Linked DNA regions of Homo sapiens: region 2 is linked to region 1. Evidence: fine-mapped expression QTL. A gene starts in region 1. The other region holds a variant in brackets. All regions are shown on one strand. Distances are from middle to middle.

Evidence for each region. PIP is the estimated chance that this variant, and not a neighbour inherited with it, causes the effect.
Region 2: its variant is fine-mapped to the expression of LPIN1 in whole blood (INTERVAL, PIP above 0.99).

The regions. Positions count from the first base shown.
Region 1 is chr2:11,744,543-11,749,913 of GRCh38, reverse strand. It overlaps LPIN1 (lipin 1), which reads right to left and starts at 3,282. Exons shown (of 21, transcript NM_001349206.2): 1 at 3,243-3,282. It overlaps LOC124907735 (a long non-coding RNA gene), which reads left to right and starts at 4,455. Exons shown (of 2, transcript XR_007086220.1): 1 at 4,455-5,371. RefSeq lists enhancers at 257-306, 327-586, 1,359-2,030, 4,542-5,115 and a silencer at 3,034-3,603.
Region 2 is chr2:11,823,323-11,828,693 of GRCh38, reverse strand. LPIN1 (lipin 1) reads right to left here. Exons shown (of 21, transcript NM_001349206.2): 21 at 1,285-4,062. The coding sequence ends at 3,903. Among named protein-coding and RNA genes, the nearest start is that of MIR4262, 11 kb to the left of the region's middle. RefSeq lists an enhancer at 901-1,010. The variant G/A (reference allele first, on the strand shown) is at 3,006.

The DNA.
Region 1 (5,371 bases):
GCCCCAGCATTCAGCATCAGCCGAAAATTTTAAGTTGTTGCAAGAATCACAACATTTGGTCAGTGGGTTGAAAAATCCACTGTAACCATGACCCTGTAGCCATGACCACCGGTGTGAAAATGCTTCTGGCTTCTCTCCTGATGGAGCCCAGTCCATCTGGTTCCTCCCAACCTCTCAGCTGGGAGTGGGAGCGGCACAACGCGCCCTGCATCCCTCAGTGTGCAGAACAGCCTGTGGGCCAGACACTGCTGAGGTTTTAAGACTCCTGGGCCACATACCTCATTGTGAAAAGTGTCAGCCTGGGTCTGGGTCAGCCCAGACCCAGAGCTTTCTACAGGCAGAAACTCACTACTCAACATATCCCTGGCTGCACAGACCCCACCCCAACCCCAGCTGCTAAGGGCTTGTTGGGGTGAATTACAGGTAGGGAGACAGACAGGGGAAAGCTGTGGAAAGAGGAAGAGGAAGGGAACCCACAGGAAGGGAGGTCAGGGCACTTGCTTCGGACCCCAGCAGCCCCAGGGCCCAGTGTGGCCTCCTAGGGGGCACAGATTCCCTTCAGGCGCTGGTGCATCCTCTGATCAAGGAGCAGGGCCAGTGTGGGTGTGTCCCCTCGACACACAGGCATGGGCCCCTCTCTCTCTCCAGACCCTCCCTCACAGCTCAGAAAGCGAACATTTCAGAAACAGCCATCCGATAGGCACCTGGGCCTCTTCTGAATGAAGAACCTGTGACGTCACTGAACGGCTTTGCTTGGGTTTTGTCCCAACTCTTTTTTCCCCACACACCCCGTTCCAGTTTTAAATGAGTGGGCTTATTATACAATACATTGGTCCAGGGTTCAATAAAGTGTCAAAATTGTGACTTTGCCCTTCTCAAGGAACAAGCCCCAAAGCTGCTAGTGGGTGATTCCAGGGACTTCCTCCTCAGGACCCCTCAAAAGCTCCAAGATCCCACGCCCGGGCTACCAGTGAGGAAGTGCAAGTGCAAACAGGTCGAACCACCAGCCTCGGTGTCCTGGCGGGACCTAACACCTGGATGTCTCTCAAAATGCTCCAAAAGCTGCCGACATCCGTGCAACAGCCCCCTCCCACCCTAAGGAAAAAGCTGCCTGTACCCCTCGACTACCCCCATTGGCAGGCTTGCCCAAATCAATTAACCTCATTTAGGTACCTTTTAGGCCTTGAACCCAGTACACAGATGGTCCGGAAAAGCCAACCGGAAGAGAGGTGGCAGGCAGGGGGAGGGGGTGTCCCACAGGGATGATTTACAGAGCAGAGGCCGGCGTCAGCCAGGACTGTCCCAACCCCACAAAGAGCCCCTCCTCGCTGGCACCCTGTGGCACTTTAAAATCATAACAACCACAATGATTCGTGGACCCCATATTATGTTCCAGGGGCTCTTTTTTATCTCAATTAATTTTTGCAACAATCCTGTGAATGGGTATGATTATCCCTTCATTTTACAGATGGGAAAACTGAGGCTCAGAGGATTGAAGTCTTCTGCCCAAGTTCTACATCTGTGAGTGGTCAGAACAACAACTGCAAAGCCCAGTGCTCTGTGCCGGCCTCGGCGCATCTCAGACCACGGTGGCCTCAGGACCTTCTTCTGAAATATCTTTTCATCTCCTGACCCTCCCCTGCCGTCTGTTCTGGGCCCTTTGTGCAGCTGACCACGCAAAGAGCAGGAGAGCAGGACCCACAGACTTCCTTCTGGCTGGGCCAGGCCAATTGTCCCCACCTAATCCAGGGCAGGCTCCTTCTCAGTCACTTCCAAGGTCCCCCCTACAACCAGGAATCCCTGCGGTCTCTCACCTGAACCCTCGCGTTCTCTCCCACACCACAAGACTCAGCAGGTCCGCCCCTTGTCCCCCTGTGCTTTTCTAAAAGAAAGGAACTGCTGATAAGCGAGACCTGGGTGGGTGAAAGAACTCGCTCAGGGTCCCACAGAGCTCAGGCAGAGCCCAGACCTCCCGACCCGAGTCCAGGGCTATATCCAGGCCTGGCTCCACAGGACCACAGGGCCCCACATGCAAATAGGAATAATAAGCGCCAAAACACACAACCCATGCACAAAAACACTCAATAACAAATGCTGGCAAACGTGAAGTGCTATCAAAGTATATAATCATAAATCCAACTGTTACACCTTTCAACAAGAATCTGGGAGCAAGAAAAGTGTTCATGTGTGGATGTGCTTATTTCTCAAATACTATACATTCCTCAACTGCTTACTTTCATTAATAAGACCCAAATTACGGAACAAAGGATAAACAGTCAATCTCACAATCACTACCCCTAGACCACCATACCACAACACCCCCAATTAAAAAAACGGCTACAAGCTTTGATTTCCCAAAACACTTCTATCCTGTGGGAAACTGCCGGGTTCTAAAACATCTCCAAATTAATACTGCCAGTTGTCTTAGTTGGTTTCCTGCTTGCTGATCAAAAACAGGGTTGACATCTGCTTTCTCCAGCAACTACTGACCACACAAATTACCTACTCTAGCTCCACAGCACTTAAGTTACTCCCAAAACGTTACTTCTCATCCTGCATTTTCCTGGCCTTGCCCATAATAAAATTACGTGCAGGAGCAGCTGACGGAGCTCACTAGGCCTAGCACCTCCTAGGCTGCAAGAAAGGTGCAGAGGCCTCGCAGGGGAGAGCTGTAATATGAGAACCGGGATTCCAACCTGGGCTCAGCCTGCCCTGCCGCCCGGCAACTGTATGACCTTGGGCACAGAGGTCAACCTCCCTGAGCCTCAGTTTCCTCAACTGCAGCGCTGGAATCCTAACTCCGGGGGAAAGAAAGGCTCTCATCCCAGTCCCCGGCGCAAAGCTGGGGATGATCGCGCAGAGCCAGGACGCACCCGCGCTGGCCGGCTGGAGCTAGTCCCCGCGGTTCTGGGACTGCGCGGCAGCCCCCAGTGGCCCCTACGCCGCTCGAGATCAGCCAAGCCGGGCCCACACCGGGCCTCGCGGCGCGTCAGGAAAGCCAGGCCCGAGGGATGCTCGCGAGGCCCTCCCGGCCTCCGGGGCCTGTTTCCCCGCCTCCCTCCCCCGAACCACTTCCCGTAGAGGGCCCCGGGGACGTAGCCCGGCCGTCGGTCCTCGGGCCCCGGGGCCGAGCCCCCGCCTCGCCACGCGTCCTCAGCGCCCCGGCGCCGCGCCCCGCCCCGCCTAACCCGAGGCTGCGGCCCCTGCTCCACAGCGGGAGGCTGGAGGCGGCGGCTACTCACCGAGCGGCGCCGCGCGTGGCCGCCTTTGTATTGCAAACACCCAGCCCGCCGCCGGCTGTCAGCGCAGCTCGCCTTCGGGGGCGGGGCAGGGGCGGGGGCAGAGGGCAGGGGCGGGGCAAGCGGGGCGGTGCGAGGGGGACTCGGGACGCGCTGGTGGCCCGGCTGCTTTCAGGGCCTGCTGGCCGGCCCTGCCCGCTCACCCCTGGCCGCCTATCTTAGCGTTCCTGGGGGTGGGGCCCCTTAGGCCGCCTTTCTGATTTTCCTTTCCAGAGCCAAACTCGTGTGTTTCTTCAACACTCTGACTTGACCTATGCCGATGACTGGGGGAGTGAGGACGGAGGGGTGCAGAGAAAAGGCAGCCAGGTAAAAGTCCAGGTAAACCACCCAGGGCCTGGCCGCGATCACGTCGGTCCTATGGGTCCCGCTTATCACCAGTGGCGGGATCTGAGCCCGTCCTTGACTTTACTGACCCTCGCCCTTCGTTTCTTCCACCTTAAAGGCGCAATCGCGTTGACCTATCGCCATCTCTTCTTAGCTTCTCCACGCCGGGCCACCCCTGTCCTTCATCCTGATGGTGACAGCCTCCACTCCCGCCTCTGCCAAGCGGTGGTCCAGGTGCGGAACGGTGGCTCTGAACAGGAGGGACAGGCAGCTCCCTGCGCCTCTCCAGCCGGGAGGCAGGCAGCGGATAAACAATGAGCCACATAACGTCTGGTGGTGAAATGATTTCCATCAATGGGAGGGTGTCATATTTGAACTGAAACTCTAAATGACAAGAAACACCTATGACTACAAAGATGGGGAGGAGGCAGGGCTTTCTGGAGAGCAGAAATGGCAGGTGCAAAGGTCCTGGGGCCGGTGCTGTGGGCTGGAGGGAAGGCAGGGGCCAAATATTCAGGTCTTGTAGGCCAAGGCAAGGAGTTTAGGTATTATTTAAATGTTATTCCAAACCAATTCTTTTTGAGACAGGGTCCCACTCTGTCACCCAAGCTACAGTGCAGTGGCACAATCTCGGTTCACTGCAGCCTTCACCTTCTGGCCTCAGGCAATCCTCCTGCCTCAGCCTCTCAAGTAGCTGGGACCACAGGTGCATGCCACCACGCCCAGCTAATTTTTCAAACTATTTGTAGAGACCAGGTCTCCCTATGTTGCCCAGGCTGGTCTCAAACTGCTGGGCTCAAGCAGTCTTCCCACCTTGGCTTCCCAAAGTGCTGAGATTACAGGTGTGAACCACCACGCCTGGTCCAAAAAGAATTTTAAACCTGGGAATTATATGATCTAATTTACTTCTTTAAAAAGTCACCCCTCCACTCCATGGAAAATGGACTGCAGGAGTAGAAGCCAGCAGACAGGTGGCACTGCAGGAAACCGGGGGACATGATGGTGGCTCAGATTACAGGGGCTACTCAGCAAGAAGCGGAAGGACTTCAGAGAGATTTGGAGGCAAAACCCACAGGCTTACTGATGAATGGAACCGGTGGAGGTGTGTGATGCGATACTCAAAGGCAAGTCTCAGTGTGGAGATGGAACCGCTGCTCTGCTGAGATGCAGAGGGCCAGGGAGGAGGCCAGCTTAGAAACAGCATCGAATGCGGCAGCTTAGTGAATTGGATAAGCCAGCAAGCTTGAGATAGATGTTTGGGGACAGCTGCTTGGAGAGCTTTGTCCAGGGGCGCGGCTCCCGTCCATCTGGTCAAGTGTGGACACGCTCCCGCTGGGCTTGGGGCAGCTCCTATCTAGGCAGCCTGTCCCATGCTGACATTGCAGACGTGGGAGCTACACAAAGAGAATCTTGCAGTTTGTAGGTGAGCTACCTCCACAGGGGTTTTCTCAGAGACCAGAGTTTCAAGTGCATCACGGCTGCCCAAAACTGCTGAGGTTGCAAGGCCCCAGAAGGAAGCCCTCCTGCACCCTCCCCTCCCACCTCCAGGGAGGAGCTGGCCTGGGAAGAAGTCTACTCTATGTGGAAAGGCTTTCCAGGAAGCCAGTCCAACTTCAGGCCACTTAAGTTTATTTTTTGTGTAAAATAAGTCCATTATTCAAATGTGGAGATGGGAGGTCTGAAAATATAGGACAATTCAACTCAAAGCCCTCATTCTGAAAATGATGAGCTGGGGGGCCCAGCACGGC
Region 2 (5,371 bases), 79 kb before region 1:
CACGCCCAGCTAATTTTTGTATTTTTTTTAGTAGAGATGGGGTTTCACCATGTTGGCCAGGCCGGTCTCAAACTCCTGGGCCTCAGATGATCCACCTGCCTTGGCCTCCCAAAGTGCTGAGATTACAGGCGTGAGCCAACGCACCCAGCCTTTAGGAGCCAGCTTTTTAATTTTTTAAGAAGGGGCCGACTTAACTTTCCTCCAGGACAGTTCCGCTGTTCTAGGGCTGTAGTAGGGCCACGTGCATTCCCTCTTCCTGGAAAGAGCACTCTGGGGTCCAATGCTGATGGTCAATGGCCCCATCGTCAACCTTCCTCGGCTTCCGATGCAAGAGAGCTGATGTGTCAGTGTTTGAGAACCAAGCTGTAAAGCCTTTTAAACATTCAGGTGATCACAGCTGAGACGCTGGGGAAATCCAAGCCCCCGAGCTCGTTTACCCCGCACACGTGAGAGCTGCCTGCAGAGCTCCGCCAGCACGTGGGAATCCACAGGCCAAAGACAATAGTCTAGACAAATTTTTATTTTATAGATAAAAGAGCCCGCACACTGAAGTCCGAGTTGGAACAAATCCGTGATGGTGTTCAACAAAATTAGAAGGTTTTGTTTTTTAAGATGCAAAAGCATTAATTCTACAGGCACCTAGAGATGAACCGTTTGGATTTGGGCTTCATTAGGAATTGGGCCTAGTATCCTGGCCGGCTATGTTGCATTTAGGGGGCCAATACTTTTCCATTTATTCCAAAAACGCTTAGGCTGATGCAGGTAAATCAATAGGAAGCTTCCAGCCACGTTGACATGTAAAATCAATAGGAATTATGACAGTTTTCAGCTTATATGATTGCACTAGTCAAGGATTTTGATTCATTCAAAATGAAAAATGAATCTGGGGTTTACCACAGAGAAGAGTCGAAAAAATGAGGACAGCAGCTGTGAGGCTGGGGAACCCCCATGTGCTAAACACCAATTCTAGGCCAGGCCCTGGGAGGCACTTCATGAAATTCACTTGATTGAAACCTCCCTACTCCTGAATCATCCCACCAGGGCAGGGAGGGATCCCGGGTGCAGCCTTCTCCTCTCTTTCTTCATCCCTCCCGTCCCCAGCAAGTGCATAGAGAAGGCTGGTCTTTTACCCATTTAAATCTAAAACATCAGGAAAAACATTTATTCCAAATAGTGAACAATTCATAGCCTGAAGATTTTTTTTAGAATATGCTTGATAACACACCCCAGAAAAGTCAACAACTTAGTAACTTACCAAAAACTATTTAAAATTCACACACCTGATTTTCAGAGAAGTCTTTCATCGGTCTCATTTATTGCAATATTTTCTAGCTTTGCATCCAGTACAACACAATGAAGTATTACAGTGATTTTTATCATTGCATCAGCATATACAAATACAGATCAAATGCAAATAAAGTGTGCTTACAGTGGTGATCCAAACATAAAATTGCAAAGGGAATTCTCTTTGAAAGTGTAATTATTTTTCTCCAATGTACCAGGTATATATTTTTCTCTATGCCAGGTATACATATTTGTCTTCATCACATGTGACAAACATTTGATGACTTGTCACTAAGTAGGATTCATTTCCATAGGGCAACTTTGAAATGTGTGGTCCAAATACAGCATTCCAGCACATGACCTCAGCATCACTGGGTTATAGTCATGTACACAAAGATAAACCAACTCGTATATGCGTGAGTGCAGCCCATATACAAATCTCACTTTCAGAAGCCAGAAGGCAGGTGTTAATATGCCAGCCTTGCCAGGGCTCACATTGAACTTGACACAGATCTGAGAGTGTGACTTTCTGGAAAGCATGCTCTGTTTCAGGGTGCAGTGATGTGGAAGTTTAAGGTACATCAAAATTCGGGATCCAAAATTGCATCCTCTGAAAACTCCGCCTGCAGGGTGTGCTGCTGCAGAGGGCTGCCTGGATGCCAACTGCATGAGGGATACATCCCCCCATTCTCGCAGCCAAAGTTCCTCCTGGGTGCAAAGGAGAAACCGTCTGAACCTTTGCAGGCCCATGAGCTTATACTTAGTTCAGAGCAGTTAAAATTCACTCAAAAATACCCTCATTGCATAAAGAATGAATATAGCCTCTTTAGGTTACTAGTGAACAAGCGCAGAGGAGTTAGTTAAGGCAGGACTTTTTTTTTTTTTTTTTTTTTTTTGACATGGAGTCTTACTCTGTCACCCAGGCTGGAGTGCAGTAGTGCAAGCTCGGCTCACTGCAACCTCAGGCAGGACTATTTTTAATTATTTTTAATACCTGCAAAAGGGAATCTGCACATGCACATCCGTGTTTCTACAGAAATCTGCGATCGATGGCAGATCTGTTTGCCTTTGTGTGTCCACATGAACCATTTGGCAAAGGCATCCAATGCTAACGGGGCCCACCAACTACAACGGAGGCAACAACTCTGTGGATTTTCTTTCACAGAAAGAGTAAAATTTCATTCAACCGTTCCATTTTTTGCCTCCTGTGATTCTAACAATGAAATTTAAATAGGAAAATGTTTCAATCGTTGGAGTAAAACACTCTTTAAAAAAATAATGCTTCGAAAAGTAAAGCAAAATCTTTTACCAAAATAATTCTTTCACTTTTCAAATTGTTCTGTCCACGAGCCAGTGTAATAAACAAGTGAAAGAATCACATTCTGTAGGCTTAAAGAATGCCAAATTATTACTTTTTCGCTTGCCCTTAATTTGAGTGGAAAAAGCTAAGGAAAATAAATGACTCAGAAATTCCAAAAGAAGGTCAGTCTATGAGAAAGAGAGAATAAGGCCCTTTCGATAGTCTAACACATACATCTTTTTAATATATTAATGACAGTGGTATAGAAAGAATATGAATAAATGCCTATCACAGTAACCTAATCAGAGTAAAACAATACATAATATCTAAAAGAATATAGTTGAACTTCTTGAAACTATTTTCTTAAAACCAACCAGTTTCTTTGGAGAGCTCCCAACAGAAGTCAGTATCATTATCATTT[G/A]GCATAAGTGTGCTCAAGTCCACACTGTCAGCACCACCTCGCTGGATGGAAGGAAGCCGGCAGTGTCAAACTCATTCAAAATACTGCCTTAGTAATATTTACTGTCATTTTAATCTAAGGCGTTGCAAAGTTACCATGAGCTAGATAAAGCGCATTCTTAAATGTCTGCCATAGATATATTAAGGCATAAATATTCCAGCCTTGAGCCACAAAAACTGGGGGGAGATATGCCAATGAAATAGACTATCTTTAACCAAAGGAATTAAAGAAAAATTTATCACCTAAAAATGAGACTAGTCAGCAAATACTGTAAGGGGCCCATCCACAAGGCCAAGTCTGAGGCCAGGCCTGGACCCGGTGGCGTCCAGATTTCTATCAGAGACCTCAGATCCAGGTCACATGAGCCTTCACAGCCCTCCCCACTGTGTTCAGAAGGTGGTGGCACTAACATTGCTATAATGGAAATGTGCCCCCTACTTTGCCAAAAACCGTGCACATCTGGCATTCCTCGATTGACCCTGTCCTAGGCGGGGACAGCCCTCAGACAGCCGCCTTCTGCCTAGGTTTCACAGCCCCAAACTGCACGTGAACCAGTAGCTACTTGCTGGAGCAGGCCGGAAAGGCAGCGTCGTAACTGGCATTAAGCCACAACTGAGGAATGCTTTTCACGGTACAAATGCACCCAACTCCTAGCCTAGAAAGTGCTCCCTTCCTATCTTGCTTAGAAATGTCAGCCCCGGGGTGGGGCAGGGGAGAAATGCTTCTCAATTCTCTCTGCTGTCAGGCCAATGATGACGCGCCAGGCTCCCAGGTGGAGCTGTGCACTCCGGGGAGACCTATCCTTTAATGGGTGACAACCAGGCTCTGCACTGCTGGCAAGAGGCTGCTTGGGACATTTTACGCTGAGGCAGAATGAATGTCCTGGTTTTCAAAAGGTGGCAGTGGCTCTCTCCAAAAGGTGAAGTTACTGAAGGTATCCGAACAGGGAAAGTCTGAAGAATGGCTTCTTTTCAGCAACGGGAAAACGTGGTCGACTACTTCACAGAGTCTCACATACCTGGAAGGAAAGGGACATTGTCACTGGCACTGAGCGATACCAGCTATGCACCCAGGGCTGCACGTAGAAGTCAAGAGAGATCTACAACCTCAAGGAGCAGACCGCCTACTTATCGACACGACTCAAGTCATTCTAGAATAATTTGTTATCGATTAATTGAAAATGAGAGATGAAAATGAAGAGTATGCAAACAAGGCATCAGAGAAGGCTCTGGGGAAGAGGTGGGTGGGACCTGACTTCACTTGAAGGACAGGTAAAGGAGATACAGCCAAGCAAAAGACGGCAGGAGGAAGTCACCATGGCCATGGGATAGCGCCTGCTGCAGGGGTCACATATGGGACATCGGGGGAAGAATCACAGACAAGGCACATCTTTGGAGCACCTGACAGAGATTGCTTCATTGCATAGTGAAAAGGAGCTGGGTCCTGGGGTTAAAGAGACATTAATTTGATGTTCAGCTCTGCCATTTACTAGCTGCGTGATCGTGGGCAAATGGCGTAACCTCTCTAAGCCAATTTCCTCCACTGTAAAGGGAGGAAAATAAAAACTATGCCACAGTTTTAAGGATAATTTAAATAAAATAACATATGCAACATTAAAATAATGTATACTGGGTGCTCAAATGTATCTAAATGACAAATTATCAACACGTCTTAGAGAAAAAAGCCCTGGTTGGCATGACGGTCAAGAGACCCGGGCTCTCCTGCTTGCTGTAACCTTGGACAATTGTCTTGCCCTCTTGGAGCCCTTCGTCTTTATAGTCTGTGGAGCTGAATTAGAGCAGGGCTTCCCAATGCTTCCTACAACGTTCTCTTGCTCTCTTTTATTTGCATGCCCAAAAATATGTTGCATGTTAGTTTCTGTGGCTTATACTATGAAAAGAAAGTTGCTATTGCTATATTGAATATGCATGTTCAGACCTCCAGGCACCTCCAAACTGAGATTCTGGCACACCCAGCCCACTGCCAGCCATCCCCAGATTCCTCCTTGACAGTCACTGATCACTGTCTAGTTCCAAATTGCTAAGAACCTAAAGGAACTTCCAAAATCCAGACTCCAGAAGTGTGCATGTTCTGAGGTATAAAATAATGTACTAAATGAAGCCGAGTGTGTATATTTAATAAAGGACCTCCAAAGGACTTATGAGAAACAGTGTGCTTGCACAAAATGGGAAAGTGACGTCTCCTAATACAAAACCAAGAGTTATGTCTTTCCTTGGGATTCAAACAAACAGACAGATTTTTAAAATACCTCCCGGCTTTAAGGCTTATTTGTCTGAGGTTTGTGGCTGCGGCAGCAGGGCCCCTCC